2 separate regions of the Homo sapiens genome follow, and region 1 is linked to region 2. The links come from fine-mapping of genetic effects on gene expression. A gene starts in region 2. The other region holds a variant in brackets. All regions are shown on one strand. Distances are from middle to middle.

Evidence for each region.
Region 1: its variant is fine-mapped to the expression of PLEKHH3 in thyroid (GTEx, PIP above 0.99).

What each region holds. Positions count from the first base shown.
Region 1 is chr17:42,541,648-42,557,061 of GRCh38, forward strand. NAGLU (N-acetyl-alpha-glucosaminidase) reads left to right here. Exons shown (of 6, transcript NM_000263.4): 6 at 1,381-2,802. The coding sequence ends at 2,591. It overlaps HSD17B1 (hydroxysteroid 17-beta dehydrogenase 1), which reads left to right and starts at 11,276. Exons shown (of 6, transcript NM_000413.4): 1 at 11,276-11,383; 2 at 11,477-11,644; 3 at 11,792-11,971; 4 at 12,147-12,240; 5 at 12,758-12,935; 6 at 13,022-13,567. The coding sequence starts at 11,287. The coding sequence ends at 13,291. It overlaps HSD17B1-AS1 (HSD17B1 antisense RNA 1), which reads right to left and starts at 13,155. Exons shown (of 1, transcript NR_144402.1): 1 at 10,789-13,155. It also overlaps the pseudogene HSD17B1P1. RefSeq lists silencers at 6,619-6,868, 13,137-13,296, enhancers at 7,259-7,338, 7,369-7,428, 12,920-13,487, 14,303-14,850, a cis regulatory region at 10,734-10,750 and a promoter at 11,200-11,276. The variant T/C (reference allele first, on the strand shown) is at 4,493.
Region 2 is chr17:42,667,788-42,683,201 of GRCh38, forward strand. PLEKHH3 (pleckstrin homology, MyTH4 and FERM domain containing H3) reads right to left here and starts at 9,207. Exons shown (of 13, transcript NM_024927.5): 1 at 8,615-9,207; 2 at 6,567-6,622; 3 at 6,147-6,226; 4 at 5,856-6,047; 5 at 5,612-5,769; 6 at 5,389-5,509; 7 at 4,299-4,605; 8 at 3,564-3,771; 9 at 3,207-3,343; 10 at 2,786-2,918; 11 at 2,131-2,589; 12 at 1,643-1,834; 13 at 127-516. The coding sequence starts at 8,776. The coding sequence ends at 340. CCR10 (C-C motif chemokine receptor 10) reads right to left here and starts at 14,056. Exons shown (of 2, transcript NM_016602.3): 1 at 14,013-14,056; 2 at 11,102-12,830. The coding sequence starts at 14,036. The coding sequence ends at 11,766. It overlaps CNTNAP1 (contactin associated protein 1), which reads left to right and starts at 14,744. Exons shown (of 24, transcript NM_003632.3): 1 at 14,744-15,109. The coding sequence starts at 15,043. RefSeq lists enhancers at 5,404-6,277, 9,498-9,597, 9,618-9,667, 9,798-9,877, 9,858-10,359 and 8 more and silencers at 6,248-6,297, 6,348-6,467, 7,708-7,867, 8,988-9,047, 9,138-9,387 and 3 more.

The DNA of each region.
Region 1 (15,414 bases), 130 kb before region 2:
TGCGCATCCTGCTACAAAACTGTGAAGCCAGGGCTCCTTCCTGCCACTTAAAGGAGGAGTGGAGCAGAGGGCGCCCAAGTCAGGAATGACTTAGTGGAGAGGCGTCTGTGTTGGCCAGGAAGGGAACAGATCAGCTCAGCCTTTCTTGAGCAGTACTGCTCCAAGTGTGACCCAAAACCAGCAGCAGCAGCAGCAGCAGCCCGAGCTGTGAGATGGCAAATTCTCAGGCCCTACCCAAGACCTGAAGGAGAAGCTACATTTTTTTTTTTTTTGAGACAGATTTCACTCTGTTGCTGAGGCTGGAGCACAGTGGCACAATCTCATCTCACTGCAACCTTCGTCTCCTAGGTTCAAGCGATTCTCCTGCCTCAGCCTCCCGAGTAGCTGGGACTATAGGCACCCGCCACCACGCCCGGCAATTTTTGTTTGTTTTGAGATAGAGTCTCGCTCTGTCACCCAGGCTGGAGTGCAGTGGCACGATCTCAGTTCACTGCAACCTCTGCTTCCTGAGTTCAAGCGATTCTCCTGCCTCAGCCTCCTGAGTAGCTGGGATTACAGGCGCCCCCCAACCACACTCGGCTAATTTTTGTATTTTTAGTAGAGACGGGGTTTCGCTATGTAGGTCAAGCTGGTTTCAAACTCCTGACCTCAAATGATTCGCCCACTTCAGCCTCCCAAAGTGCTGGGATTACAGGTGTGAGCCACCTTGCCTGGCCAATTTTTGTATTTTTAGTAGAAACAGGTTTCACCATGGTGGCCAGACTGGTCTCAAACTCCTGACCTCAGGTGAACTGCCCACCTCAGCCTCCCAAAGTACTGGTATTACAGGCGTGATCCACTGCGACTGGCCTTGATTTTGTTTTTGAGACAGAATCTTACTCTGTCGCCCAGACTGGAGTGCAGTGGCACAATCTCAGCTCACTGCAACTTCTGCCTCATGGGTTCAAGTGATTCTTGTGCCTCTACCTCCCGAGTAGCCGGGATTACAGGCACCTGCCATTACGCTAGGCTAATTTTTGTATTTTTAGTATAGACAGGGTTTCCCCACATTGGCCAGGCTGGTCTGGAACTCCTGGGCTCAAGTGATCCACCTGCTTCAGCCCCTCAGAGTACTGGGATTATAGGTGTGGGCCACCACGCCCATTCAGAAACCTCCATGTTTTAAGGAGCCCTCTGGGTAACTCTCATGTTCACCCAAGCTGCTGAACCCTGTCCTGGAGTTTTCAGAGGGACGCGTATGTGCCACAGAGCGTCCCGCTGGTGGGGGTCATGGGAAGCCATGACCTGGGATAGACAGTCGTCTGTAGAGTGGGGTGAACATTCCCTGGGCCCTCTGTTTCATCACTCCTCTTCTCTGTTCCCCCTACCTCCTGTCCACAGTGGATACTGAGGCTGTGTGGCTGCTCCAAGGCTGGCTCTTCCAGCACCAGCCGCAGTTCTGGGGGCCCGCCCAGATCAGGGCTGTGCTGGGAGCTGTGCCCCGTGGCCGCCTCCTGGTTCTGGACCTGTTTGCTGAGAGCCAGCCTGTGTATACCCGCACTGCCTCCTTCCAGGGCCAGCCCTTCATCTGGTGCATGCTGCACAACTTTGGGGGAAACCATGGTCTTTTTGGAGCCCTAGAGGCTGTGAACGGAGGCCCAGAAGCTGCCCGCCTCTTCCCCAACTCCACCATGGTAGGCACGGGCATGGCCCCCGAGGGCATCAGCCAGAACGAAGTGGTCTATTCCCTCATGGCTGAGCTGGGCTGGCGAAAGGACCCAGTGCCAGATTTGGCAGCCTGGGTGACCAGCTTTGCCGCCCGGCGGTATGGGGTCTCCCACCCGGACGCAGGGGCAGCGTGGAGGCTACTGCTCCGGAGTGTGTACAACTGCTCCGGGGAGGCCTGCAGGGGCCACAATCGTAGCCCGCTGGTCAGGCGGCCGTCCCTACAGATGAATACCAGCATCTGGTACAACCGATCTGATGTGTTTGAGGCCTGGCGGCTGCTGCTCACATCTGCTCCCTCCCTGGCCACCAGCCCCGCCTTCCGCTACGACCTGCTGGACCTCACTCGGCAGGCAGTGCAGGAGCTGGTCAGCTTGTACTATGAGGAGGCAAGAAGCGCCTACCTGAGCAAGGAGCTGGCCTCCCTGTTGAGGGCTGGAGGCGTCCTGGCCTATGAGCTGCTGCCGGCACTGGACGAGGTGCTGGCTAGTGACAGCCGCTTCTTGCTGGGCAGCTGGCTAGAGCAGGCCCGAGCAGCGGCAGTCAGTGAGGCCGAGGCCGATTTCTACGAGCAGAACAGCCGCTACCAGCTGACCTTGTGGGGGCCAGAAGGCAACATCCTGGACTATGCCAACAAGCAGCTGGCGGGGTTGGTGGCCAACTACTACACCCCTCGCTGGCGGCTTTTCCTGGAGGCGCTGGTTGACAGTGTGGCCCAGGGCATCCCTTTCCAACAGCACCAGTTTGACAAAAATGTCTTCCAACTGGAGCAGGCCTTCGTTCTCAGCAAGCAGAGGTACCCCAGCCAGCCGCGAGGAGACACTGTGGACCTGGCCAAGAAGATCTTCCTCAAATATTACCCCCGCTGGGTGGCCGGCTCTTGGTGATAGATTCGCCACCACTGGGCCTTGTTTTCCGCTAATTCCAGGGCAGATTCCAGGGCCCAGAGCTGGACAGACATCACAGGATAACCCAGGCCTGGGAGGAGGCCCCACGGCCTGCTGGTGGGGTCTGACCTGGGGGGATTGGAGGGAAATGACCTGCCCTCCACCACCACCCAAAGTGTGGGATTAAAGTACTGTTTTCTTTCCACTTAAACTGATGAGTCCCCTGGGTCTGTCAAAATGAGAAGGTCACTGCTGCCACGCTTGGGAGGACTCAGGGCTATAGCATGGCCCTGGGGTGGGACCTGTTCTCCCATCCCTTGCCTCACGTCCCTGTTTTTGTTTGTTTGTTTGTTTGTGACGGAGCCTTGGTCTGTTGCCCAGGCTTGAGTACAATGGCACAGTCTCGGCTCACTGCAACCTCCGCCTCCTGGGTTCAAGCAATTCTTGTGCCTCAGCCTCCCCGGTAGCTGGGACTATAGGCATGCACCACCACGCCAGGCTAATTTTTTTTTTTCCAAGATGGAGTCTTGCTCTGTCGCCCAGGTTGGAGTTTAGTGGCACCATATTGGTTTACTGCAACCTCTGCCTCCCGGGTTCAAGCAATTCTCCTGCCTCAGTCTACCAGGGAGTTAGGACTACGGGCCTGTGCCATCACGCCCGGCTAATTTTTGTATTTTTCATAGAGATAAGGTTTCACCATGTTGGCCAGGCTGGTCTTTAACTCCTGAACTCAAGTGATCCACCTGCCTCGGCCTTCCAAAGTGCTGGGATTACAGGAGTGAGCCACCGTGCCCGGCCACGTCTCTCTTTTTAACACTAATGTTACCCTGACCTTTGAACGTAGAATGCCCTTCTGTTGCAGGAAAACCTCTTTTCAAACCATGTTTGTCCTTTGCTGGCATGCCACAGCAACAGTCACCAACACAGAAGACTTCTGTGACCAAATATTTGGAGGATTTTCCCCACACACACCAAGCAGCAGACATCAGCTGGGTGTCCTCCAATTCAGTTCCAATGTAATCAACCAGAGACAGCATCAGATCCCACAGGGTTAGGGTGCAGATCCATGAGACCACCCCCTCCTTCCCAACGGTTACAAGTCCTGATCCCTGGAACTTCTGACTAACTGGCTTCAAGTTGGAGTTCCCATGACCCCCTTCCCCTCTTTGGAGTCAACTCATTTGCGACAGTGACCCACGAAACACAGGGAAACCCTTATTATGTTTATTGCTTTATTACAGAGGAAAAAAATTTTTTTCTTTCTTTTTTGAGACAGGGTCTCACTCTGTCATCCAGAATGACTGCAGTGGCAGGATCTGGCTCCGTCACCCAGGCTGGAGTGCAGTGGCATGATCTCGGCTCACTACAGCCTCCATCCCCCCAAACCCCACGCCTCAGCGCCCCACCCCGCAAGTGGCTGGGACTCTAAGCATACACCACCACACCCAGCTAATTTTTTTGTAGTTTTTGCAAAGACGGGGTCTCATTCTGTTGCCCTGGCTGGTCTTGAACTCCTGAGCTCCAGCAATCCCCTTGCCTTGGCCTCCCAAAGTGCTGGGATTACAGGCATCAGCCACCGTGCCCAACCTCAAAGGATATTTTAAAGGATAGAAATAAACAGCCATATGAAGAGATACAGACAGGGCGGTCTGGAAGGGCCCAGAGCAGGAGCTTCTATCTCCATAGAGTTGGGGTTACATCACCCTCCAGGCACATGGATGAGTTCTTCACCTTCTGTCAGCCTCCACACGTTCAGCTCTCAGAAGCTTCCCGAACCCTGTCCTTTGGGCCTTTTATGGAGAACTCCATTGGCTGTCCATGACTGAAGCATGGACAACTGTGATAATGTGATTGGGCAAAAAGGGTCTGATCTAAGCCCAGCAAGGCCAGTCCAGATTCTT[T/C]GGGCCTTTGTGCAGCATTCCTTTCTCCAGGGTATGGGGCAAGGACCCACTCTGGAATGAGGATCCTACAACCCACAATCAGATTAGAATCCTGCCTTGGGCAGCTGAAAAGAGGACAGGAGAAGGTCAAAGAGAGGAAAGGCTGTTTTTTGAGGCCTGAGGCGCCCCAACATGACAACGAAAGACTGTAACCATGGTCATGTGAGTTATGAGCTAGGAACCCTGGACGAAACCAACACATATACAATCATCTCCCACCTCCCAACACCTTTACTTTCACAGCCTCTGCAGCAAACTGCGGTCACTATAATCGCTCCTGTGGCACAGAGGCATACCCAGGGGAATCTGCCCAGGGGGCCACTCTGTGCCCACGTGGGAACCCACATCTGCTTGTAAAGCCTCCCCTCCCTCTGACCAGAAACGAGGACAGTTTGTTGTTCCAAGCAGTGGGCTCATGTCTGTTTTGGCTCAGAACAGGGTGGGGAGAGCGGGCCAGGGACCCGCAGGAGGGCTTATCCTTGAGATTGCGTGGGAGACACAACAAGGGGTGGGGGCCCGCAGGCGGGGCGGGGCGAAGCAGGTGATATCCAGCCCAGAGCCCCAGCCTCTCCCCACAGTCTCACCATGGCCTGCACCGTGGTGCTCATCACCGGCTGTTCCTCAGGTATTGGCCTGCACTTGGCAATACATCTGGCTTTGGACCCATCCCAGAGCTTCAAAGGTATAGATAGGTAGGGACAGGGAGGGAGAGAAGGGAAAAGCCCTTGGAGGCCAGAAGAGAAGTCAGATCTTCCTCCTCTCCCAAAACCTCCAGTGTATGCCACGTTGAGGGACCTGAAAACACAGGGCCGGCTGTGGGAGGCGGCCCGGGCCCTGGCATGCCCTCAGGGATCCCTGGAGAGGTTGCAGCTGGATGTAAGGAACTCAAGCTCCCTGGCCGCTGCCCGGGAACGCGTGACCGAGGGCCGTGTGGATGTGCTGGGTGAGCCTCCTGGAAGCATATGGGCTCCTAGGAGCCTTCTCCGCCCTGCGTTGAAACCAACATGTCCCCAGGCCCCTGGAGCATGAGGGGACAGGCCGTGCTGAGGGTGATGCTGAGGCGGGCTGGTTGGGCCTCTGTCCCCGCAGTGTGTGACACAGGCCTGGGCCTGCTGGGGCCGCTGGGGGAGGACGCTGTGGCCTCTGTACTGGATGTGAATGTAGTAGGTACTGTGCGGGTGCTGCAGGACTTCCTGCCAGACATGAAGCGGCCGGGTTCGGGACGCGTGTTGGTGACTGGGAGCATGGGAGGATTGATGGGTGAGTGGCAGGGACCGGGCCCGGAGCTCCAGATTCTTTGTGTGCAGAGCTGAGCCTTGAAGGCAGGCTCCTTAGGGGGTGGGGTGCAATCAGCTTGGAGGGGCACTGCCTGCCGGGGGATGACCCCCTGGCCGCTGCGCCTCAGGAACCTCATCTTCCCACCCAAGGGCTGCCTTTCAATGACGTTTATTGCGCCAGCAAGTTCGCGCTCGAAGGCTTATGCGAGAGTCTGGCGGTTCTGCTGCTGCCCTTTGGGGTCCAGTGAGTCAACACCCCCGTCTCCTCAACCCTCTTAACTCTGACCTAGAGATGCCGAGCACCCTGTCCTGCGGAAGCCGCTCTGGTCTCTGCCCGGCTTACATTTGCTGCGTGCCAGGCACTTAGGCTGGAGCATTGGCACGCATTGTGCCACTTGCTGACCTGGCTGCTGAAGTGTTGGTATTGTTATGGGGAAGCTCCAGCCAAGAGAGGTTAGGTGACTGGCCCAAGGTCATGCAGCGGCCGGGGATCCCGCCAGGTTCGAATTCTGACACCAGGGCTACCTGGCAGCCTCAGATGGGTTTGGGAGGGCTGTCGAGCAATAACCCGCTATTCAAATGTTCTGGTTATCCCCAGCGCTCTTTCCACCTTCGGGACGCAGCGGTGCTGTTCTGGGTCGTGGCCAGGGCCGGGGTCGGGGCCGGTGCTGGGGCAGGAGATGGGACTTGGCGCCTGGGTCGCCTCCGTCCCTGCCCACTTGCGGCTCTCGGGCCAGCAGCGTGAGCCTGATCGAGTGCGGCCCTGTGGACACCGCCTTCATGCAGAAGGTGTTGGGCGGTCCCGACCAGGTGATGGACCGCACGAACACCCGGACCTTCCGCCTCTTGCACTAATACCTCCACCACAGCAAGGAGATCTACCGCGAGGAGGCGCAGCACCCTGAGGAGGTGGTGAAGGTGAGCGGGGGGCGGGACTCCGGGAGCGGGGGCGGTGCGTCGTCCTGCGCGCAGCCCGGGCCAGAGCTCCTCTCCCGCCGCCGCAGGTCTTCCTCACCGCTATGCGCGCCCCGAAGCCGACCCTGCGCTACTTCACAACCAGGCGCTTCCTGCACCAGCTGCTGATGCGCCTGGACGACCCCTTTGGCTTCGACTACGCCGCCGCCATGCACCGGGACGTGTTCGCCGACGATCCCGCAGAGGCCGAGGCTGGGGCCGGGGCTGGGGCCGAGGCCGGGGGCGGGGCCGGTGGGATGGGAGACCCTGAGCTCAGCGATCCTCTGGCCGCCCCGCAAGAAAGGCTCCGTCAGCCACTGTCTCCCGCGCCCTCCTTTGTCTCCTGGGCCTGTGCGGTCCCTGGGGATGGGACGGCGGTGACGGCTGTGGATGGCTAATTAAGACAGATCACGTTAGCCCGTTATATCTGCGCGGCTAGGCGCGATGGCTGTCGCCTATAATCCCAGAGCTTTGGAAGGCCGAGGCAGGAGGATCGCTCCAGGCCAGGAGTTCCAGACCAGCCTGAGCAACATAGTGAGACACCCCATCTCTAAAATAAAAAAATTAGCACAGTGGCACCATTCCTTGAGCTCAGGAGTTGGAGGCTGCAGTGGGCATGATCGAGCTACTGCTCTCCAGCTTGGGCGATAGAGTGAGACACTGTCAATTAATTAATCTAATCAACCAACCAACCCAACAACCCAGAAACCAAGGTCCAGAAAGAAGCCAGCCCAGGATCATGCCTCAAGTCCACAGTAAAGCCCAGACACAGTCACTGGATACCCAAGGGGCATCTGCAGGACGAGTTAGGTGGGACTTGGGTTGGGGTAGAGTCAGGTTGTGACCTGCACTCCATTAGCCATGAGACCTCAGGCAAGTTCCTTGCTTTCTCTGAGTGCTTTCCTTTCCTTTCCCTTTTCTTTTCTTTTTTGTTTTTCTTTTGTTTTGAGACGGAGTTTCACTCTTGTTGCCCAGCCTGGAGTGCAATAGCGCGGTCTCAGTTCACCACAACCTCTGCCTCCCGGGTTCAAGTGTAGCTAGGATTGCAGGCATGTGCCACCACGCCCAGCTAATTTTGTATTTTTAGTAGAGACGAGGTTTCTCCATGTTGGTCAGACTGGTCTTGGACTCCCGACCTCAGGTGATCCGCCCGCCCTGGCCTCTCAGAGTGCTGGGATTACAGGCATGACCCACCCCATCCGGCCCTCTGAGTCTTTCTTATCTGTAAAATGGGTATAATAATACCTATCTAATCGGTTTTAGTAATGGTGGAGATAATGCCTGAAAGTGCTAGTATAGAGGTTTAATACCCAGCAAGGACTGTTATTAGAATGAATAGTAATATGACTACTGTCACATTTTGCAAATGTGTAAAGAAGAAAGAGGGCTAAGTGAATCAAAGGGAGACAGCCCCACTCACCCTGTTCTGCCCCAGAGGACTGAGCGATCCCCACCATCTGGGAAGCTGCCTCACCAGGAGGTCCAGCTGGGGCTACAGGACTGGCTACTTTGCTACAATGGCCCATCTTTCCTGAGCCCAGTGGAGGGTCCCAGGGGGGCAGAAGTCATTGATAGGGGCCAGTAGGGTTGTAGAGCCACTGTCTGAACTTCTGTGGAGGTCTGGTGCAGGGGAGGTGTGAACAGATAGGAGGCTAGGTGAGGATGCAGCAGAGGAAGGGGGCAGGAGTGCCCCAGGAGGGGGCGGTACCGAGGCAGGGATTCAGCTGGGTCTGAGAGGGAGGGAAGGCTGAGGGGGATGGCCCTTTGGAGTGGGCAGGGACATGACCACAGAAAGCCTGGGAAGTGGAAACAGACAGGAGCCTGCTGGAGCTCTTGGAGCTTTGTGTGGGGCACTAGGGGAAGGAGGCAGGCACTCCACCCTGACCTGCCCCTACCTCTGGATGAGGGTCTTCTCTGCCTGTTGGATGATGTGCTGCCCCTGCTCTTGGAGGAAGAGGCCTCCCAGCCACCCCCTCCTGCCAGTCGCCTTGCCCTGCTGACCCAGACAGATCTGCTATCCCTACAGCATCCAGGAAGGCCACAGGGAGGGGGCCCAGGTGGCATGGGTTTCTGAGGCCTGGGATCTGCTCTCAGTCCCGCTCTCGCCAACCCCCTTTGCCCCTCTGTGACAGTGTGTGTACATATGCGTGCATGTGTGTACCTGTGTGGTGTGGCTCACAAGGTCACCCCTGGGGGTGGGATAATAAGAGGTAAAGTGTGACCCCCTCTCTTCCGTACATTCATTTTTTCAAGCTTGTGAATATTCACATTGTTAATATAATCTTCTGCAGTCCCATGACTTCGAATAGCACTTAGATGCCGATGACCCCCCCACCAAAGAAACCCCACTGTCTCCCACAGACTCCAGGTCTGTATCTCCAACTGCCTACTCAATACAACACGTCCACCTGATACAATGAACTTAATGTGTCTAAACCCCAATTCCACATTTCCAGTCCTCCTACCGGCTCCTCCCCCAGTCTTCTCTACTTTACTATATGACAACTCCATTTTTCCCAATACTGGTTTTAAAAACCCTGGAGTAGTCCTTGACTCCAGTCTCTCTCACCTTTCAACCAATTCAGCAGCAAATACTGACAGCTCTACCTTTGCTCATCAAAGCATATCCCCAAATCACCCTATTCCAGACTGCACACTGTCATCTCTCCCTTCAATTACAGCAGTAGCCTCCTAACTAGTTTTCTTGATTCCACTCCTGCCCATCAGCAGTGAAATTACCCCAGAGCAGTTAAAATGATCTTTTAGGATGGGCACAGTGGCTCACGCCTGTAATACCAGCACTTTGGGAGGTGGAGGCTGGCTGATCCCCTTAGGTTGGGAGTTCAAGACCATCCTCACCAACAGGGAGAAACCCCATCTCTACTAAAAATACAAAAATTAGCCGGATGTGGTGGGACGTGTCTGTAATCCCAACTACTTGGGAGGCTGAGACAGGAGAACTGCTTGAACCCGGGAGGTGGAGGTTGCAGTGAGCCAGAATCGTGCCACAGCACTCCAGCCTGGGCAAGAAGCGCGAAACTCCGTCTCAAAATAAAATAATCTTCTAAAAATGACAGGGCCAGGTGGGGTGGCACTTTTTTATAATCCGAGCACTTTGGGAGGCTGAGGTGGGCAGATCGCTTGACATCAGGGGTTTGAGACCAGCCTGGCCAACATGGTGAAACTCCGTCTCTACTAAAAATACTAAAAATTAGCTGGGCGTGGTGGCGGGTGCCTGTAATCCCAGCTACTCGGGAGGCTGATGCAGGAGAATCGCCTGAACCAGGCAGATGCAGGATGCAGTGAGCCAAGATTAAGACACTGCACTCCAACCTAAGCAATACTTTGTCTCAAAAATAAAAAAAAGCCTGGGAAACAAAGTGAGACCCCGTCTCTACAAAAAAGTCAAAAAATTAGCTGGGTATGGTGGCAGTGATGGCACACACCTGTAGTCCCGGCTACTTGGGAAGCTTTTTAATATTTTTTGCAGAGACCGGGTCTCACTCTGTTACCTGGCCTGGTCTTGAACTCCTGGGCTCCAACAATCCCCTTTCCTGGGCCTCCCAAAGTGCTGGGATTACAGGCATGAGCCACCGTGCCCAGCCTCAAAGCATATTTTAAAGGATAGAAATAAACAGCCATATGAAGAGATACAGACAGGGCGGTCTGGAAGGGTCCAGAGCAGGAGCTTCTATCTCCATAGAGTTGGGGTTACGTCACCCTCTGGGCACATTCTGTCAGCCTCCACACGTTCAGCCCTCAGAAGCTCCCGAACCCTGTCCTTTGGGCCTTTTATGGAGAACTCCATTGGCTGTCCATGACTGAAGCATGGACAACTGTGATAATGTGATTGGGCAAAAAGGGTCTGATCTAAGCCCAGCAAGGCCAGTCCAGATTCTTTGGGCCTTTGTGCAGCATTCCTTTCTCCAGGGTATGGGGCAAGGACCCACTCTGGAATGAGGATCCTACAACCCACAATCAGATTAGAGTCCTGCCTTGGGCAGCTGAAAAGAGGACAGGAGAAGGTCAGAGAGACGAAAGGCTGTTTTTTGAGGCCTGAGGCACCCCAACATGACAACGTAAGACTGTAACCATGGTCATGTGAGTTATGAGCTAGGAACCCTGGACGAAACCAGCACATATACAATCATCTCCCACCTCCCAACGCCTTTACTTTCACAGCCTCTGCAGCAAACTGCGGTCACTATAATCGCTCCTGTGGCACAGAGGCATACCCAGGGGAATCTGCCCAGGGGGCCACTCTGTGCCCACGTGGGAACCCACACCTGCTTGTAAAGCCTCCCCTCCCTCTGACCAGCAACCAGGACAGTTTGTTGTTCCAAGCAGTGGGCTCATGTCTGTTTTGGCTCAGAACAGGGTGGGGAGAGCGGGCCAGGGACCCGCAGGAAGGCTTATCCTTGAGATTGCGTGGGAGACACAACAAGGGGTGGGGGCCCGCAGGCGGGGCGGGGCGAAGCAGGTGATATCAAGCCCAGAGCCCCAGCCTCTCCCCACAGTCTCACCATGGCCCGCACCGTGGTGCTCATCACCGGCTGTTCCTCGGGCATCGGCCTGCACTTGGCCGTACGTCTGGCTTCAGATCCATCCCAGAGCTTCAAAGGTATAGATAGGCAGGGACAGGGAGGGAGAGAAGGGAGGAGCCCTTGGAGGCCAGAAGGGAAGTCAGATCTTCCTCCTCTCCCAAAACCTCCAGTGTATGCCACGTTGAGGGACCTGAAAACACAGGGCCGGCTGTGGGAGGCGGCCCGGGCCCTGGCATGCCCTCCGGGATCCCTGGAGACGTTGCAGCTGGACGTAAGGGACTCAAAATCCGTGGCCGCTGCCCGGGAACGCGTGACTGAGGGCCGCGTGGACGTGCTGGGTGAGCCTCCTGGAAGCATATGGGCTCCTAGGAGCCTTCTCCGCCCTGCGTTGAAACCAACATGTTCCCAGGCCCAGGGAGCACGAGGGGACAGGCCGTGCTGAGGGTGATGCTGAGGCGGGCTGGTCGGGCCTCTTGTCTCCGCAGTGTGTAACGCAGGCCTGGGCCTGCTGGGGCCGCTGGAGGCGCTGGGGGAGGACGCCGTGGCCTCTGTGCTGGACGTGAATGTAGTAGGGACTGTGCGGATGCTGCAGGCCTTCCTGCCAGACATGAAGAGGCGCGGTTCGGGACGCGTGTTGGTGACCGGGAGCGTGGGAGGATTGATGGGTGAGTGGTAGGGAGTGGCCTCGGCAGCTCCAGATTCTTTGTGTGCGGAGCTGAGCCTTGAAGGCAGGTTCCGCGGGGGGGGTGGAGTGGGGTGCCGTCAGCTTGGAGGGGCACCGTCTGCCCGGGGATGACCCCCTGGCCGCTGCGCCTCAGGAACCTCGTCTCCCCACCTAAGGGCTGCCTTTCAATGACGTTTATTGCGCCAGCAAGTTCGCGCTCGAAGGCTTATGCGAGAGTCTGGCGGTTCTGCTGCTGCCCTTTGGGGTCCAGTGAGTCAACACCCCCGTTCCCCGAACCCTCTTAACTCTGACCTAGAGACGCCGAGCACCCTGTCCTGCGGGAGCCGCTCTGGGGCGATCTCCCTGGCCCTCTCTGCCCGGCTCACATTAGCTGTGTGCCAGGCACTTGGGCTGGGCGCATGGCACGCATTGTGCCACCTGCTGACCTAGCTGCTGAAGTGTTGGTATTGTTATGGGGAAGCTCCAGCCCAGAGAGGTTAGGTGACTGGCCCAAGGTCACACAGCGGCCAGGGACCCCGCTAGATTCGAATCCTGACACCAGGGCTCCCTTGTAGCCTCAGATGGATTTGGGAGGGCTGCTCCGGCAGGAACCCGCGTTTCAAATGTTCTGGTTATCCCCAGCGCCCTTTCCGCCTCACTTCCCAGCGCAGCGGTGCTGCTCGCGGTCGGGGGCCGGGACGTGGTTGGGGCTGGGACTGGGGTTGGGGCTGGGACTGGGGCCTGGCTGGCGTCCGCCCCCTCCCACTCGTTGCTCTCCGGCCAGCAGCTTGAGCCTGATCGAGTGCGGCCCAGTGCACACCGCCTTCATGGAGAAGGTGTTGGGCAGCCCAGAGGAGGTGCTGGACCGCACGGACATCCACACCTTCCACCGCTTCTACCAATACCTCGCCCACAGCAAGCAAGTCTTTCGCGAGGCGGCGCAGAACCCTGAGGAGGTGGCGGAGGTGAGCGCCGGGCTGGACTCCAGGAGTGGGGGCGGTGCGTCCTCCGGCGCGCAGCGGTGGCCACAGCTCTCCTCCCGCCGCCGCAGGTCTTCCTCACCGCTTTGCGCGCCCCGAAGCCGACCCTGCGCTACTTCACCACCGAGCGCTTCCTGCCCCTGCTGCGGATGCGCCTGGACGACCCCAGCGGCTCCAACTACGTCACCGCCATGCACCGGGAAGTGTTCGGCGACGTTCCGGCAAAGGCCGAGGCTGGGGCCGAGGCTGGGGGCGGGGCCGGGCCTGGGGCAGAGGACGAGGCCGGGCGCGGTGCGGTGGGGGACCCTGAGCTCGGCGATCCTCCGGCCGCCCCGCAGTAAAGGCTTCCTCAGCCGCTGTCTCCCGCGCCCTTCTTTGTCCCCTGGGTCTGTGTGGTCCCTGGGGATGGGGCGGCGGTAGCAGCTGTGGGTGGCTAATTAAGATAGATCGCGTTAGCCAGTTTTACCAGCGCAGCTAGGCGCGATGGCTGTCGCCTGTAATGCCAGCGCTTTGGGAGGCGGAGGCAGGAGGATCGCTCAAGCCCCGGAGTTGGAGACCAGCCAGAGCAACACAGTGAGACCCCCATCTCTACAAAAATAAAGAAAATTTAAAAATCAGCACAGTGGCACCATTCCTTGAGCCCAGGAGTTGGAGGGTGCAGTGAGCATGATGGGGCCACTGCACTCCAGCCTGGGTGACAGAGTGAGACCCTGTCAATTAATCAAATGAACCAACCAACCGAAAAACTCAGAAACCAAGGTCCAGAAAGAAGCCAGCCCAGGATCACACCTCAAGTCCATATTAAAGGCCAGACACAGTCTCTGGATAACCAAGGGGCATCTGCAGGAGGAGTTAGGTGGGAATTGGCTTGGGGTAGAGTCAGGTTGTGACTTGGACCCCATTAGCCATGAGACCTCAGGCAAGTTCCTTGCTTTCTCTCAGTCTTTCTTTTCTTTCTTTCTTTCTTTTTTTTTTATTTTCTGAGACAGAGTTTCGCTCTTGTTGCCTAGGCTGGAGTGCAATGGGGCAATCTCGGCTCACCACAATCTCCGCTTCCCAGATTCAAGTGATTCTCCTGCCTCAGCCTCCCAAGTAGCTGGGATACCGGCTAATTTTGTATGTTCGGTAGAGACGGGGTTTCTCCATGTTGGTCAGGCTGGTCTCAAACTCTCGACCTTAGGTGATCCGCCCGCCTCGGCCTCTCAGATTGCTGGGCATACAGGCATGAGCCACCGCGACCGGCCCTCTGAGTCTTTCTTATCTGTAAAATGGGTATAATAATACCTATCTAATCGGTTTTAGTAATGGTGGAGATAATGCCTGAAAGTGCTAGTATAGAGGTTTAATAGCCAGCAAGGACTGTTATTAGAATGAATAGTAATATGACTACTGTCACATTTTGCAAATGTGTAAAGAAGAAAGAGGGCTAAGTGAATCAAAGGGAGACAGCCCCACTCACCCTGTTCTGCCCCAGAGGACTGAGCGATCCCCACCATCTGGCAAGCTGCCTCACCAGGAGGTCCAGCTGGGGCTACAGGACTGGCTACTTTGCTACAATGGCCCGTCTTTCCTGAGCCCAGTGGAGGGTCCCAGGGGGGCAGGAGTCATTGATAGGGGCCAGTAGGGTTGTAGAGCCACTGTCTGAACTTCTGTGGAGGTCTGGTGCAGGGGAGGTGTGAACAGATAGGAGGCTAGGTGAGGATGCAGCAGAGGAAGGGGGCAGGAGTGCCCCAGGAGGGGGCGGTACCGAGGCAGGGATTCAGCTGGGTCTGAGAGGGAGGCAAGGCTGAGGGGGATGGCCCTTTGGAGTGGGCAGGGACATGACCACAGAAAGCCTGGGAAGTGGAAACAGACAGGAGCCTGTTGGAGCTCTTGGAGCTTTGTGTGGGGCACTGGGGGAAGGAGGCAGGCACTCCACCCTGACCTGCCCCTACCTCGGATGAGGGTCTTCTCTGCCTGTTGGATGATGTGCTGCCCCTGCTCTTGGAGGAAGAGGCCTCCCAGCCACCCCCTCCTGCCAGTCGCCCTGACCTGCTGACCCAGACAGATCTGCTATCCCTACAGCATCCAGGAAGGCCACAGGGAGGGGGCCCAGGTGGCATGGGTTTCTGAGGCCTGGGATCTGCTCTCAGTCCCGCTCTCGCCAACCCCCTTTGCCCCTCTGTGACAGTGTGTGTACATATGCGTGCATGTGTGTACCTGTGTGGTGTGGCTCACAAGGTCACCCCTGGGGGTGGGATAATAAGAGGTAAAGTGTGACCCCCTCTCTTCCGTACATTCATTTTTTCAAGCTTGTGAATATTCACATTGTTAATATAATCTTCTGCAGTCCCATGACTTCGAATAGCACTTAGATGCCGATGACCCCCCCACCAAAGAAACCCCACTGTCTCCCACAGACTCCAGGTCTGTATCTCCAACTGCCTACTCAATACAACACGTCCACCTGATGCAATGAACTTAA
Region 2 (15,414 bases):
AGCGCTGTGGTGTCCAGACTTCCCCCAGAGCCTGGTAAAAGCCCAGGGTGTGGGCATCCCCAGAGGCGGGGCTCTGCGTTATGGGGTTCCAACTTGTCCCACTGAATAACACTCCCACAGGAAGGGTTTGTGTAAATAAGAAACTTTTTTTTTTTTTTTGCTTCTCTTCTACAAATAAATTAAGAAACAAACTAGAAAATTACCCACACCCATTGTAGCCCTTGGGTGTGGGATGTGCCCTGTCCCTGCAGGGCCAAAAGGGTCCATGTTTCCCTCAAATCTCAGAGCAGTCCTGGCCCAGGCTGCAGGCAGGAGGGAAGTCGTGACCTCTTGGCAGGCTCAGTCCTGCAGCTGCCCCAAGCAGCCAGACTGTCCCTGGGGCTCGTCCAGGCCCGGGCGCTGGCTGGGAGGGGAGGTGTCTGGCAGGTCTTGGCATGGAGGAGAAGAGCTGCTGCAGGGCCTCTCGGGGGAGGGGTTGGCCAAGTAGGCATTCACCAGCTGCATGATCTCTTCCACCTAAGAGAGGGCAGAGGTCAGTGTGCAACAGGGGCTGCCAGGTTCTCTTCTTTTTCTCATCCTTTCTCCAGGCTCTAGGGCTCCAGCTTCCCCACCAGGGTCCTACGTGCTCTGGCCCTGCAACCTTTCCTTCCTTATCACCACTCTCTCCTTCATTTCTTTTTTGTTTTTTGAGACGGAGTCTCGCTGTGTCCCCCAGGTTGGAGTGCAGTGGCGCGATCTCAGCTCACTGCAAGCTCCGCCTCCTGGGTTCACACCATTCTCCTGCCTCAGCCTCCTGAGTAGCTGGGACTACAGGCGCCCGCCAACACGCCCGGCTAATTTTTTGTATTTTTAGTAGAAACAGGGTTTCACCGTGTTAGCCAAGATGGTCTCGATCTCCTGACCTCATGATCCGCCCATCTCGGCCTCCCAAAGTGCTGGGATTACAGGCGTGAGCCACCGCGGCCGGCTTCTCTCCTTCATTTCTATGTGCCAGTTATACTTGGTTCTTTCTGCTCTTCTAACATTTTTTTTTGTTGTTGTTGTTGTTGTTGTTGTTGAGACGGAGTCTTGCTCTGTTGCCAGGCTGAAGTGCCTCGGCTCACTGCAACCTCCGCCTGCCGGGTTCAAGCAATTCTCCTACCTCAGCTTCCCGAGTAGCTGGGACTATAGGTGTGCGCCACCAGCCCCAGCTAATTTGTATTTTTAGTAGAGATGGGGTTTCGCCATGTTGGTCAGGATGGTCTCGATCTCCTGACCTCGTGATCTGCCCGCCTCGGCCTCCCAAAGTGCTGGGATTACAGGCATGAGCCACTGCACCCGGCCACCTTGCAATTCTTTCTACCTGGAATGCTGTTCTCCCAGGTCTTCCCTGGCTAGCTTAAATGGCACCCTTTTTGAGAACCCTTCCCTGGCTTCCTGTCACATCACTCTTTCCTTTGTAGCATTTCTCACTGTCTTCATAGCCTGGGATTCCTTGTTTATTGTCTGACTCCACTCTAGTGTAAGCTCCTTCAGCTTGTCTGTGATCACTGCTGGATCCCCAGTGCTTAGAGCTCTACCTGGCCCAGGTTTGGTGTTCTGTAAATGCTTCCTGACATCGCTTCCCTTCTCTCCTCCTCCCACAACTCCTCTTCTCACTCACCTGGGGGCTCTGCAGGAGGAGCTGGCTCTCTCCCACCCTCAAGGCCAGGGTGTGGGGGCCCATTAGCTGGCAGGCGGCCACATGGCCATAGCTGACACTGTGGATGGGCTCCGTCTCCCCTGGCCGGGAGAGGGACATGGCCTTGGCTCCCAAGCCCAGGCACAGCTTCTGTGGAGCACCCCGACCAGGCTCCTGCAGACAGAGAGGCAGAGTCAGGGTGGAAGGAGGAGCCCAGCGTTATTTTTGGTAGGGGGAGATGGGTGTCTGTGAGCAGGAGTATCCTGATCCCCCTATGATTCACAGCACGTGTGTGGAGGGGGCTGAGGCTCCAGGGATGTGAGGGCCCAAGGGCTGGTGACTCCTGGGGTTTGAGATGGGTAGCTGTTCTGGATGTGGGGAATTACGTGACACTCCGTGGGACCTGTGGCTCTGGGGCAAAGGTGTGGGGCTTGGGCCGCCAGAGTCCCCTTCTCCCTTCTCCCCCTCACCGTGCTCAGCTCCAGAACGTCATACCGAGCAGCGCCGAACCCCGGACACTGCGCCGCCAGGGCCAGGTAGGCGGCCATGGCCTCAGCTCGGCCCATGCCCCGTAGCCGCTTCCAGCCGCCCAGCACGGCAGCTGCCGTGCCGGCGCCGCCTCCTCCCTCGCGGGCAATGCTTCCCGCAGTGCGGCCGGCCCCGCCGCGCCGGGCCCGCTCCGCCCGCCTCTTGGCCAGGCCCGGGCTCCAGAGCGCCCCGGCCAGCAGGGCAGCGGAAGGGGGCGGCCTGGGGGTCGGGCGGGGCGGGTCTTCGCGCGGCGGGGCCGGGGGCGGGAGCAGGCGGTCCAGGCGGGGCAGGGGCACCCGCGGAGAGAAGTCCCGCTGCAGGCTCTGCAGGCGCAGCGCCGCCAGGGCGCGCAGCGTGTCGTCGGGTGGGGGCGGCCGGCCCCGCAGCAGCAGAGCGTGAGCCTGCAGGGGAGGCACCCGGCGTCAGTGTACGAGCGGCGGCGGAACCGTCGCGAAAACGCCTCGCGGAATCTGAGCAGGTCTAGGTTCCAGTCAAGCCTCCCGCGGGGCTGCCATAGTGATGAAATGAGACGGCCTAGAAAACCAGGGGTTCAGGCTTGGGGGTCTGTTTGGAGGCGTGAACGCCGGAGAGCCTCACCTGCTCAAAGAGGAAAGGCAGTTCGTGACCGTCTGGGGACAGCCCCTCAGGGTGCAGAGGTCCGTGAAGACGCAGACATAGTCTCCACCCGGAGTCGGGCGAGTCCTCCAACCCAGCTTCCTCCGCGGCCAAGCTGCAGAAGAGGAGCGGACGAAGCGCTAGGGAGAAGCCGGACCCCTACGGCGAGGGCAGCTTGGGGTGGGGGCGGGGCCATGTGTTTGGGGCGGGGCCTGGGCGGAGCCGACAGCGGAGGTGATGCTGCAGTCGGACTGCAAACCTGCGGCGGGCAGGTCCGTCTGTAAACCAGCGAACACCACAGCGCAGGGCCAGGGGCAAGCGCTGGATAATGTCCGCTTAGAGACTGACCTCAGCTGAGAAGTGGATGGGCTAATAGAGAGCAGGGCTGGGGCTGGACATTTACTTCTCAAACCTGGTGAGCACGTCGGCCACGAGGGTCCCCCCAGCCAGGGCTCGCTCCTGGGCCCCTCGCTGCTCGTACAGCGCGAATGCGTTGCGGCTCCGGGCCAAGCCCAGCCGCCCCACCAGCTCTCGAGCCACCTAGAAGAGGAGGGTGAGGGGAGACCACTCAGAGGTCTTGCCAGGATTCTGGGAGGGGTTGATTCAATTGGAAGGGGTCTCTTAGTCCTGTCACCACCACTCCCTCCCTTACCAAAATAATCTAGACTCGGGGCAAACCTAGGGTCCAGGAAGAGGGAGAGACAGGCGTGAGAAGCTGGCAGGGTGGGTTGGAGGTCATGGGGCCTTTCTCTGGCCTCACCTCCCCCGCCGTGGTGTGGGAGTCGATGGCCACAGCACAGGCACCAGCCCCCGGACAGTGCACGGTACACAGCAGCTCCTGCCGTTGGCTCAACGCGGAAATCTCCGCCAGCGAGGGCACCAGCTCTCTGCCGCGCGTCCGGCCCAGCGCTTTCCGGATGAAGCGCGCATATTCCGCCAGTTCCGAGTCCGGGAGTGCCTGCTCGGTCCTGGGTTAGGAGGAACCCAGGGATCAATACTCCAAGGGCTTTCTTCTCCCCCTCCCTCTTGCCTGCTTCTCTTATAGTTTATTTTATCTAGCCGATTTCCTCCCCGCCCCAACTCAAGTTCTTTGAAGGCTCTTCTAAATCTCTCCCCAGTGCTTTGCATAGAGCTGAATTACTTTTCAAGTCCCCTGGCAGCTTTCTCCCAACTGCCTCCACCACTTCCAAAAGTCTTCGTGATCTTCCTTCGGCCTGAAATCGAAATCCAGCCACTTTACTACATTTTCCTAAGCCCTGGCGCTGGCCTGCATCAGCTGGAGGAAAAGCAGCCTTTTCATAACTCCTCAGCCCAAGGGGGGCGTTTTATTGTAATTCATCCGCTCACAACTGCGATAGGATCTTGTATCTCCCACAAAGGCACTGTATGTATTACTCGGTTCTTTACCTACCAAGTCTTTTGCAAAAGACCTTTCATTCTCTCCCAGCCCGGTAGCTCCTCGCCTAGGCCGTAACCCCCACCTCGCCCCTCTCACCTCTCCAAGTGCCCCAGGAGGTGCCCCCGCACAGCTCCCCCAGGTCGGAAGGTGCAGCTCATGCAGGTGAGGAGTTGCCAGTACCGCAGGGCCGCAGGGTCTTGGGTAGCCGGGAGCCCGGGGGGACCTGCAGGGCCCGAGGTCTGCTTAGCCAGCTGCAGGAAGAGTTCATCCCGGAGCGCGGGCAAGTCCCGGCAGGTTTGGAGCACACCCTGCATCAAGGGCCCGGGGCGCCGCGCCCCCTCCAGCGCCTGCAGCGCCAAGAACAGCCGCACCGCCTCCTCGCGCAGGGGTGCATAGCCCGGACCTGTGGGAGGGTGGGGGCGGAGGGACGGTTTGGAGAGGGGACACAGAGCTGCGCCCTGGGAGGAAGGCATGAACCAGGGGAAGGTCAGAGGGAATATAAGGGGATGGGGTGGCAGGGAGGGGAGGGTACGAACGACAGGAAGAGTGAAGGGAAAGCAGTGGTCCCACGGAGCCAGACTCTCAACCTCTGCCTCCCAGGAATCCCCTTCCCAATCCCACTAAGCCTGCATTTGGACTTAGGGAGACGGACGGCCGGGAAGGGCTGTAGATTCACACCCCAGATTCTGTAACTCCATACTGAGGCTCACCACCATAGGTCAGAAAACAGGCTGGACTAGGAGTCAGAAAACCGGGGTTCCTCTCCCAGCACCCTTTAATCCTCTAACTTTAGGACCTGGGCCAGTCACTACACCGTTTAGGGAGAAGTACAGTTGGATGAGGCCAGCACATTCTACAAAAGTGGTAGCTTTTCTACCACTTGTAAAGGTAATATGGCATAGTCTCAAGAGGATAATGAAAAAATAGGGGAGTGTACAAACTCCTGAAGGAACATCAGTAGTCAGAATGAGACCCATAGAGAAGGTGGCCAAAGGGGGCCCTTTTGTGTGTGCTGGCTTCCTCTCCTCCACCCTGGCCAGCTTCCAGTTTCACCTTCATCCTTCGAAAAGTGAGGAGCTGGCAGGTCCATGAAGGATGCTTAGATCCCTGCCAGTTAAGGGATTCAGATTCTTACCTCTGAACCACCCCATCCCATCCAGGGGACTTGGGCCATGGGACCACTCACCTGGGGCGCTGACTCCATAGGGCAGGGGCAGGAGTGGGGCATACAAGGCTCCACTAGTGTGTCTCAGAATCGGGTTCCTCAGGTAAATGAGGGCAACGGCCTCTGGGTCCCCGCAACTTTCCTAGGGGGCCAGGGAGAGGGTCACCTTGATGGGGAAGGGAGTTCCTCACAACCCCAGAAAGCTTTGGGGTCCACCACTCTCCTGGCTCTCCCTGGTGTGTACCTGTATGTCCCTGAGCAGTAGCTGGGTGGGGGTCTCCAGGGGTGCCTTGGAGGCGATCACTTCCCGCAATGCCACCCCCCAGCGCTCAGCCTCTGCCTGGCGTGGGGAGCAGAGGCGGACACTGTGTTTCCGACCAGACACAGTCACTGACCACAGACCTGGGGAAAAGAGAGGCCAGGGAGGGCCATTAGGGTCTGCCGGGGCCCCTGCCTAGGAAGGTAGGAGAGTCCCCAGGAGGTCTCACCTGTCTCCTTACGCCTGCGCTCTGGGCCGGTCACCGAGCACAGGCTGGTGAGCACGAGGCTCCCGAGACGCCGCGCCCCTTTCCCGCTGCTGCTGAACTGATCCAGGGAGTCCCGCGTGAGCACAAACCAGGCTCGGCGCGGGGGCAGCCAGGGCCGCGCCCCTCCTCCGCGGGGCTCCCGGTACAGCCAACCTGGGGGCCGGAGAGGGAGGGAAGGGACATCAGTAGAGACATTAATCCCTAGGGGGTTGGGATTGGGGGCCTCCAGAGTGCACTGAGGGGGGTCTCTACCTTTCACAACGATGTCCGGGTCGTCCTCCGGCAGCCCTTTCTCCGGGATGAGGCTCCAAGTCTCCTCCCAGCTCTGCAGCCTGGGCCAGAGGGGAGGGAAGGTTGGGTCTCCACTCTGCCTCTAGGGGGCTCCTCTGTAGGGGCTCCCCAGACCGCACGGGTGTCTGCTCCCAAGCTGGGCACCCCTCCCCCAGGCTGTGGGAACCGCTGGGCCATTCTGACCTCGAACCAGAAATAGCCCCGACCCCCCTCTTTCTCCCCGCGCCCCCAGCCGGACCGCCCCCCGGGACCCCAGCCAAACCACAGCGTCCGGCATAGGGCCTCTCCCTTATTGCACAACCGCTAGGGGAGACAGAGAGGATGGGGGTCCCGGGAACATGCTGGGGTCGCCAGACTATGGGACGTAGGGGCGTAGCTCACCTGTTGGAGACAGGCCCGCTCCTCACTGGCTGAGTCAGCGTCACTTCCAGGGGACCCTGGGGAGACAGGCGGGGAAGCCCTCAGGGTCAGAGCCCTTCCTGCGCAAGGTTCGTGCCTTCTGCCCTCAGGACAGGGCTGCTCAGGGGATTGAGGAAGGAGGAGTCACAGAGTGGGGTCGTGACTAGGGTGGAGCACGCTGGAGCCCCTGGGCTCGCCCCTCCCGCCAGTCTTAACAGGACAAGCTCTTCAGAACAGCAGGAGCTAAGGAGCCAAGGCTCCTCTCAGTTACCCTTTGAAAATACAATCAGGGGTAGGGTAGGGTGGAAAGAGCACTGGGCAGAGAGTCAGGAGACCTGGGTTCCAATTCCCGCCCCACCACTAACTCACTGTGGAACCTTGGGCAAGTCTCTTCCCGTCTCCGGGCCTTAGTTTCCCCATCTTTGAAACAGGAGAGGTGAGCTCGTTCTGCCAGGCTCCAAGGCACCCTCTCCTCCTCATTTTCCCTTCTTCCACACTGCCTCCCTGGCCAAGGCAGGACAGGTGGTAGGCACAGAGGTGAATGAAGGGCAGAGGGACCCTTTCAGTATAGGGCTTTCTCCAAAAGCGTCTTACATTCTCCCATAGACACTCCTGAGACTCAATGGTGAGCAGAGACCCTGCCCCTTTGCTGGGGCTTAGGAAGGGCGGGCCAGACTGAGGAATGGCACACCCTCTGGAGGCAGGTGTAGTTCAGGGTTTTGCCCTCCCCCTCCCCCTCCTCCTCCCTTCCCCCTGTCCTGGAACTTCAACTGTAGACTGGGGTCTGAGAGAGGCCACAAACCCAACCCGGAGGCCAGTCAGGCGGGAACCGTGCCATCCTCATATTGCTCCCAGACTGCTAGAGCCAAGAGGGGGAGGTGGGGGAGGGGGCCAGGGACACCTGTCCCCAGGCTCAGGGAAGGGGGGAGTTGAGGTGGAGCATGAGGGAGGCAATGGCCTGGTAAAGCCGACCCTGCCCAAGCTGGAAGCTTGGGGACGCCTGGGTCCTGCACCCTTCCTACGTGAACCTCCACCTATTTTCTGGAAGGTCTGAGTGGGGCTGTCAGCCACACCACATGTGGCAGGTACTGACCACCCTCTTAGGCTAACTCCCCTAATCGCAGTGCCCTGCTTCCCTCCCTCCCCCCTCCTCTATATTTATCCACCCTCCGCCTCCGCCAGGTGCTGGCGCCGGCCCCGGCGGCGCAGCCCGCCCCACCCGGGCACCGAGCCACTGGGCCTGCTGGGGACCCCTGCGCGGGGGATGGGAGCCTGACCCGGGCCACAGCACACGGGAGTCTGGCCGCCAGTGTGCAGGAGGGATGGGGGAGGAGACGTCAAGGGATGGAGGTCTCCCACACCAATCGTGCCTCCGTTTCCCCACGGGGAGATTCGACAAAACCAGGCAGCAGCCCAGTGTCCCTCACCATCCATCCCCTCAGGGGTTTCCCAGGAGCCTCACCCGGGAAAGCCGAGAGTTCTGTCCTGAGTGGCAGGGTAATGAGGAGGGGTCCTCAAAGAGCTCCCACCTCCCTCTCCTTGGGGTCCCCGCCACAGACCCCAATCCTGGGATGACTTCTCCCCCTCGTCCAGGTCTCCGCAGCGGGAGCTCTCGCATCTGGCCTCCGCACTTGCGAACTGGGAGCGGAGGGGGACCCAGGCGTTCGAGCCGCCCAGCCGGCCTCGCCACATTCCTCGGCGCTGGCGGAGGCGGAAGGAGACGGGATGGGACGCGGGCCCAGCGGGGAAGGGAGAGGCAGGGCCAGGTCGGGCCACGCGTGACGCCTCCCCTGCCTCAGGGCCCCCAGCAGGTGGATAGCGCCCAGCCTGCAGCGGGAGGCCCACAGGCACATCCCGAGTAGGGCTGCTGCTCCGAGAGCTCCCGGGGGCTTTGGCCCCCAGGCAAAAAACTCTCCCTCATCCCTAGTTCGCCAAGCGCGCAGCGTGTGGCTGGAGGCTGGAGCGGATCAGCGTGACGGCCGGTTACAGCGAGAGTGATTGAGACGAGGCTCCGAACCCCCGGGACTTACCCTCCCGCCGCCCGCTGGACTCGGGGTCCGCAGCTCAAAGGTTTCCTCGTCCTCGTCCTCGTCCCCGTCCCCGCTAAGCTCGCCGTCCCCGTAGTCCCGGTGCAGAAGAGTGAAGCCTCGACGGCAGCAGAGAAGCCACCATAGTCCCCCGGGGAGAGGCATCCGGGCGAGGAGCTGCGGATGGGGGCGCGGGCAGCCGCGGCCGAGCAGTAGGGGGTCGGAGGAACTGGCGGGGCTCCGACCCGAGCAGGGGAAAGATGAGGTGGGAGGAGCAGAAGGGAGAAGAGGACAGGGAGGAGGCAGTGTCCTGGGCTGGGGTGCAAGGGGACGCTAGCCAGACGCTGAGGGGGGCTCAGTGTCTGGGCCCCCGGAGGGGGGAGGGGGAAAAGCGTCCAGGGCCCCGGGAGAGGAGGGAGCAATGTCCGGAGCTGGGAAGTAGTGTCCGTTGGAGTGTCCAGCCCTGTGGGGGGCAGTGTCCGGTGCAGCGTCCGAGGTGGGCAGTTGTCCAAGCTCCAGGGAGGGTCGTGTCCGGTAGGGCGTCCGGTGGCCGGGGCCCGGGCCGCGCGCGCTGCGCTCCCTGCAGCCCCGGGACTGGCGCGCTGGGGGCGCGAGCACAGAGCTGGGACCCCGCCCCCCCGGCCCCCTCCCTCCCGGGGGGCCCCCCCTCTCTCTTCTTTCTCTCCTCCCTTCTTTACTAGGCAGGGTCCAGGTTTCGTCACAGTCTCCTCTGTCCAATCCCTGTGCCTGGCGCCGGGCGCGGCTACCAATCAGACGGCTGAAACCGCGTTGGGTTGCATCATGTGCCCCTGGCTTGGTGACAGCGGGGAGGGGCGGGGAAACAGGGAGGGAGGGGACGAGGCTATGTTAGCCACGCCCCAGTCTCTGAGGTCGGACGCGGGGTGCTAGTGACGTCACGGAAGCCCGCCTTCAGGCTCTTGTTTTAACTCTTGGCTCACCAACCAATTAAAAACCCTGTTGAGGAGTTTTGGCACAGGACAGAGGAAAACCCAACTGCCGCTCTCTGAACCCCTGTCTCGTCTCAGGGTCCCTGAGAAAGGGAAACGCCTTGGCTACTAAGAGGATGTCCAGACCTGCGAGGACACAGCTCTGGAGGTGGCCCTCCACGTCTGGGGAGAAGGAGTCCAGTTTCTCCAGTTTCTCGGTCTGATTCAGCTCTCCCCCACCCTTTTTTTTTTTTCTTCCAGACAGGGTCTCGCTGTCTTGCCCAGGCTGGGGTGCGGTGGAGCCATTATAGCTTACTACAGCCTCGAACTCCTCGGCTCAAGGGATCCTCCCACCTCAGCCTCTCCAGGAGCTGGGACTACAGGCGTACACCACCATGCCTGGCTAATTTTTTAAATTTATTTTTTGTAGAAATGGAGTCTCACTATGTTGCCCAGGCTGGTCTTTAACTCCTGGGCTCAAGCGATCCTCCCAGCTTGGCTTCCCAAAGTGCTGGGATTACAGGTATGAGCCACTGCACTCGGCCTCACCTCCTTTTCGAGGTGAAGGAGTTGAGGCAGGCACTCTGGGAAGGTGCAGACCTAGGCCGGAAATAAAATCGAATATAGAGCTCACAGCTCACCGAACTCAGCTGGGGAGACTGACTTGGATTCTAAGGAATTCTGTGGTCTCCGAATACAGTGGAGGCCTCTTAGGGCTAATATCCTGCGGCTCTGTATAGGAAGGGGTTAACTCAGGCGCTAGGCGGCCGGGGCGGGGCCGCGGCCTCCGCGGGCGCGCGCGCGCGTTGCTGACTCAGCGGCGATTCCAGAGATCTTGGATGGAGGGTTCCAGGTCGGTCCCCAGTGGCTGGCGTGTGGGACCCTTTGAGGATCGGCGCCGTCTCCGGGCCTTCCCTGGATCCTGGCCCCTAGAGGCCGTGGGGGACCCCTTTTCGCCGCTGCTGCGGGAGGCTCTGAGGACTGCTAGCCTGGGCAGGGCTGGGCTGGGCGGGGAGGGGCGGGGAAGGGCGGGACGGGCGGGGCCGTCAGGCCAGCACCTCCCTTGAGACCTCCTCGCCACGCCCCGCCCTTCTCGACCCTAGACTCCAGGCTGGAGCGGTGGGGACAGCTTTGCTGACCGATATTAAACCGCGAGAACTGTCGCACGTGAACACCATCCTGCCCGTTGTGATTGTGTAAAACAAAGACCAGGAATCAATGCGAGCGTGTCTAGGAGGCCATCTCGGCCGTGGCCTCTCTCCACATGAGAGTGGCCTGTACTGAGAGATTACCTAGGAATGGAGATACCACAACCATCTTCCAGGTCTGGATCCCAGGCCCTTGCCTGCAGAGAAGTTTTTTCCCATATCCAACCTCTCTCTTTCCGGCCAGCTCAGTGCATTTCCTCTGACCCAGTCCCCAGAGAAGATGGAGAACAGCAAATATCCCTCACCCCCACCACACCCGTGATAACTACTCTGGAAATTTGCAGATTGCAATCCCTCCTAGGTTTTTCTTCAAGGTGGAAAAACTTCAACTCAAATTTTACAATTCATTTTTTCATTTTTTCTTTCCATCACAGACACTAGGAAGGGATTGTAAAGTGGTTATGAAATCCAAACGCCCACCAAAAACGGGAATCCCCTGCCCCTCCCCCTCCCCCCACACCACGCAAAGGCCCACAGCGTCCCCGACAGTCTGAACATTCCAATAGCGGGAACTCAGTATTTGCTAAGGCAGCCATTACTGGAGAGCGCTCTGGTTGTTAGAAAGCTCTTCCTTACAGTATTGCAAGAGGAACCACCGCCCCTCCTTGCCTGGCAGCTTTCCCACCTCACCTCTGTTGGCTGAGGCCAGGTGACGGTGGAGGGGGTGTCAGTGGCTAGAGCTTTAGCAGACTCAGCAGCCCCCCACCCCCACCCAGGCCCTCAGCGTCTTCCACTCAGAGAGCCAAGCGCGGGGCAGGGCGGGGGGTGGGGCGGGGGCGGGGTGTTAACCCACCGGTTCTGCCCCGCCACAAATCACTTCCAAGTCGGTGACTCAAAAATAGTAACAGTTGTTGGGTTGCATCTCATTTCCATGTTATCAATTTAATGTGGCAAGGCACAGAGGTAGTCCCTTTAGGTCCCTGCCTCTTTCTCAGTGTTCCCCCACCTACTCCCCTTTCCCACGACCCTCAGCCTGCCCCCTCCTCTAGATTCGCAGCCCTAGTTGTCCCAGGAGAGACTGTGGGTCTCCGTGGGAGCTGAGCAGGAAGAAAGGCGGGGCCGGCGGGGGCAGCCGCGGCGGGGTTGAGGCCCTGAGGGGCAGCTCCCACCCCGTAGCAGCCTCCGCAGGTCCTGGCGGAAGCGCAGGCCCAGGAAGGCGTAGAGAACGGGATTGAGGCCACAGCGGGCGAGGGCCAAGCCGCTGGTCACCAGCAGTGCGACATCCTTGCGTTTGCTGGCAGGGCAGCTCCGCTCGCGCGCAGCCAGTAGATCGGCAGTATCCAGCAGCAGGGCGAGGCTGTAGGGCAGCTGCAGCACCACGAAGGCCGCCACCAGAGCCACCACGACGCGCAGCGCACGCCGGCGCTCGGGCCCCCTGGCGGCCAGCAGCGTGCGGCCCAGAAGCGCGTAGCAGGCTACCATGACGCCCAGCGGCAGCGCGAAGCCCAGGGCCACCTGCGCCACGGCGCTCGCCCCCTTCACCGTCTGCGTGAGGCCCTCGGGGAAGATGAGGCGACAGCGTCGTTGGCCTTCCCGCTGCCCATCCTGGCTGAAGAGCAGCGCAGGCAGCGCCAGGAGCAGTGACAGCAGCCACACGATGACGGAGACCAAGTGTGCGCGGCCGGGAGTGGAGGGCCGCGGCCCGGCTGGGAGCGCTCGCGCGATGGCCACGTAGCGGTCGGCGCTGATACAGGCCAGGAAGAGGAAGCCGGCGTGGAAGGAGGCCGAGTAGAGGCCAGAGATGGTGCGGCAGGTGGCACTTCCCAGACTCCAGCCCTGAAGAGCCCCTGCTGCCGCGAAGGGCAGAGTCAGGGCCAGCAAGAGGTCGGCCAGGGCCAGCTGGAGCAGGTGGGCAGAGGTGGGCGAGCGCGCTGCGCGTCGGGCTGCCAGGTGGGTGGCCAGGACCAGGCCATTGCCGGCCAGACCCAGCGCAGCCACGGTCAGGGAGACACTGGGTTGGAAGGCCCGGCTGAAGGCCTGGACATCGGCCTTGTAGCAAAGCTCCGGCAGTGGCTCAGCCGAGTATGCGTCCTCTTCATCCCCAGAGTAATGGCCCCAGGAAACCTGGGAGGGTCAAATGAGAGGCGGGATCTTATGAGACACATCTGACCACACAACTCCCCCGCCCACACTTGCCTTCCAAGCTGAGAGCTCCTGTGTGGCCAGATGTAACAGTACACGGGGAGACATAAGCTCTTCTCCAGACTCTTCCTAGCACACCTTCAGCAGGCCTTGGCTTCCCTTGCACCCCTCCTACCTCTGCTTCCAGCTTCCTGGGTGACCTTGAGCAAGCCACTTGCTCTTTCTAGACCTCAGTTACCTAACCTGTAATGTTGAGATTATAAATCCTGACCAGCCCACCTCTCAAGGTTTGCTGTGAAGATGGCAATATGGAAAATAATGGATGGGGAGAACCTGTGTTCTCCAAAGGCCATAATACAAAGTTTGTATTATTATTATTATTTATTATTATTATTATTGGAGACAGAGTCTTGCTCTGTCGCCCAGGCTGGAGTGCAGTGGCACGATCTCGGCTCACTGCAACCTCCGCCTCCGGGTTCAAGAGATTCTCCTGCCTCAGCCTCCCAAGTAGCTGGGACTACAGGCGCCCACCACCACGCCCAGCTAATTTTTGTATTTTTAGTAGAGATGGGGTTTCACCATGTTGGCCAGGATGGTCTCGAACTCCTGACCTCAGGTGATCCGCCCACCTTGGCCTCCCAAAGTACTGGGATTACAGGCCTGAGCTACCACGCCCAGCCCAAAGTTTGTATTATTAATAAATCCTACAGCTTCAGTTCCCTTTGCAGCGCCCTCTCCTGGAAGGATGCCCATATGCAGGCTTTGCCTCAGACCTGAGCCCTGGACTCCAACCTCCGTCTGGAGTGGGTTTCTGTTTCTCTTCTTTCCCTTCCATACCCACCTTCCCTGTACCTCCAATACCAGCACACTGAACCACTCATGCCAAGGGGGTCTCCAGGGTTGGGACTCAGGTTTTCAGGGCCCAGGTGGGACCCTGGACCTCTAGGTTCAACCCGCCTTTCCCCTCAGCCCTAGTCCCTGTCCCACAACCCCAGCCTCACACCACCAGCCCATTTATCTGGAGGACCCCTAGTCTGAGACAGCGCCAAGAATCCTGAATAAGCCATAGGATGGCAGAGGCCCATTGCCAGGTGGGGAATCCCATTCCTTCCCTGTCTCCTCCCTCTCTGTAACCCTTCTCCCCCTCCCTGCCCCCACTCCCACCTGCTCTGTGGCCTCCGTCCCCATCTCTGGCTACACAGGTTTCTGAGGTATAGCCACAGGGGGTAGAAGTTAAACTACTAGCGGGACAGGAAGGAAGAGGCGGGGAGAGGGGCCGAGAGGGAGGTGGGGATTAGGGTCTACGGGGTCACTTTCCCATTCCACCTCCTCCAAAAGACTTCACTCTCTTGTGCAGGATCTGGATTTTACGAAAAAAAAAAAAAGAAGAAGAAAGGAAGGAAAGAGGAAAGAAAGAAAGAAAGAAAGAAAAAAAGGAAGGAAAGAAAGAAAAAAGAATGAACGAAAGAAAGAAAAAATAATTTACTGTCTTTGTCAGTGAAGAAAGAACGGGCTTCGGAATATAATCATTTGCTGTGTGATATTGACTAAGTTTCTTGACCTCTCTGAGCCTGAGGTTTTTCATCTGCAAAGTGGAGTAGGGCAAAAATGCTAAATTCACAGTGCCCAGCACCACTCCTAGAGCATAATTTGCCTTCCGAAAATGTTAAGATTCTTTTACTTACCCTTCATTCCATTTCCAGGCACCCCTCCCCCAAACCACCTCCCTTTTCTTGAAATTTTCAGGATGCTTCTGGCCCTAGGTTCCCTGTCCTCACTCCTGTGGCCCTAGTCCCGGGCAGCCTCGGGTTACTTGGGGTTTTCCCGGTGGCGAGAGGCTCTCTACCCCCGCCCTTTCGCAGCAGGGCTGAGGCACGCGCTTGCGCGGGGTCCGGGAAACCGGCGCGTGCCAGGAGACAGAGGCTGGGGAAGGGGGGAGGTGAGAGGAAAGAGGGTGGAAAGGAGAGGATAGAGAGAGAAGAGCGGAGGACCAGGAACCAGAGAGAGAGAGAGAGAAAAGAGAGAGGAGAGACAGAGCGCTTGGGGGCGAAAGGAGAGAGGGAGGGAAGGGTGGGTAAGGAGGAGAGAGCGGTCTGCTGCAAACCCCAGGAGGAGAGCTTGGAGCCCAAGCCAGAACTCGAGCCCTAGCCGGAGCCGTTCACAGGGAGGCGGCTGCCGGGACCGTCAGCCCTGCATGATGCATCTCCGGCTCTTCTGCATCCTGCTCGCCGCGGTCTCAGGAGCCGAGGGCTGGGGCTACTGTGAGTGTTGGGCTTGGAGGCAGGTGGGGTTGGGCCCAGGAGTCCAGAGCCTGCAGGGCGGCCCCGAACCGCATTGCGGCTGGGTGGTCGCGGGTCCTTCCCGGCCGGCGCGCGCCCGCTGGCTCTCATCTTTTCCTGCCTCTCCCCCGCGCTCCGCATTGCAGCTCTGAGGCTGCCGCGCGCGCCCGGGGCTGGGGCTGGGCTCTGGGAAGAGGATGAAGTCAGCGGGCAGGGATTTGGGGTTGGGATCCAAGCAGGAGCTGGTGCCTGGGTTTGAGGCTAGGGCTGGGGGATAAGTGTATACT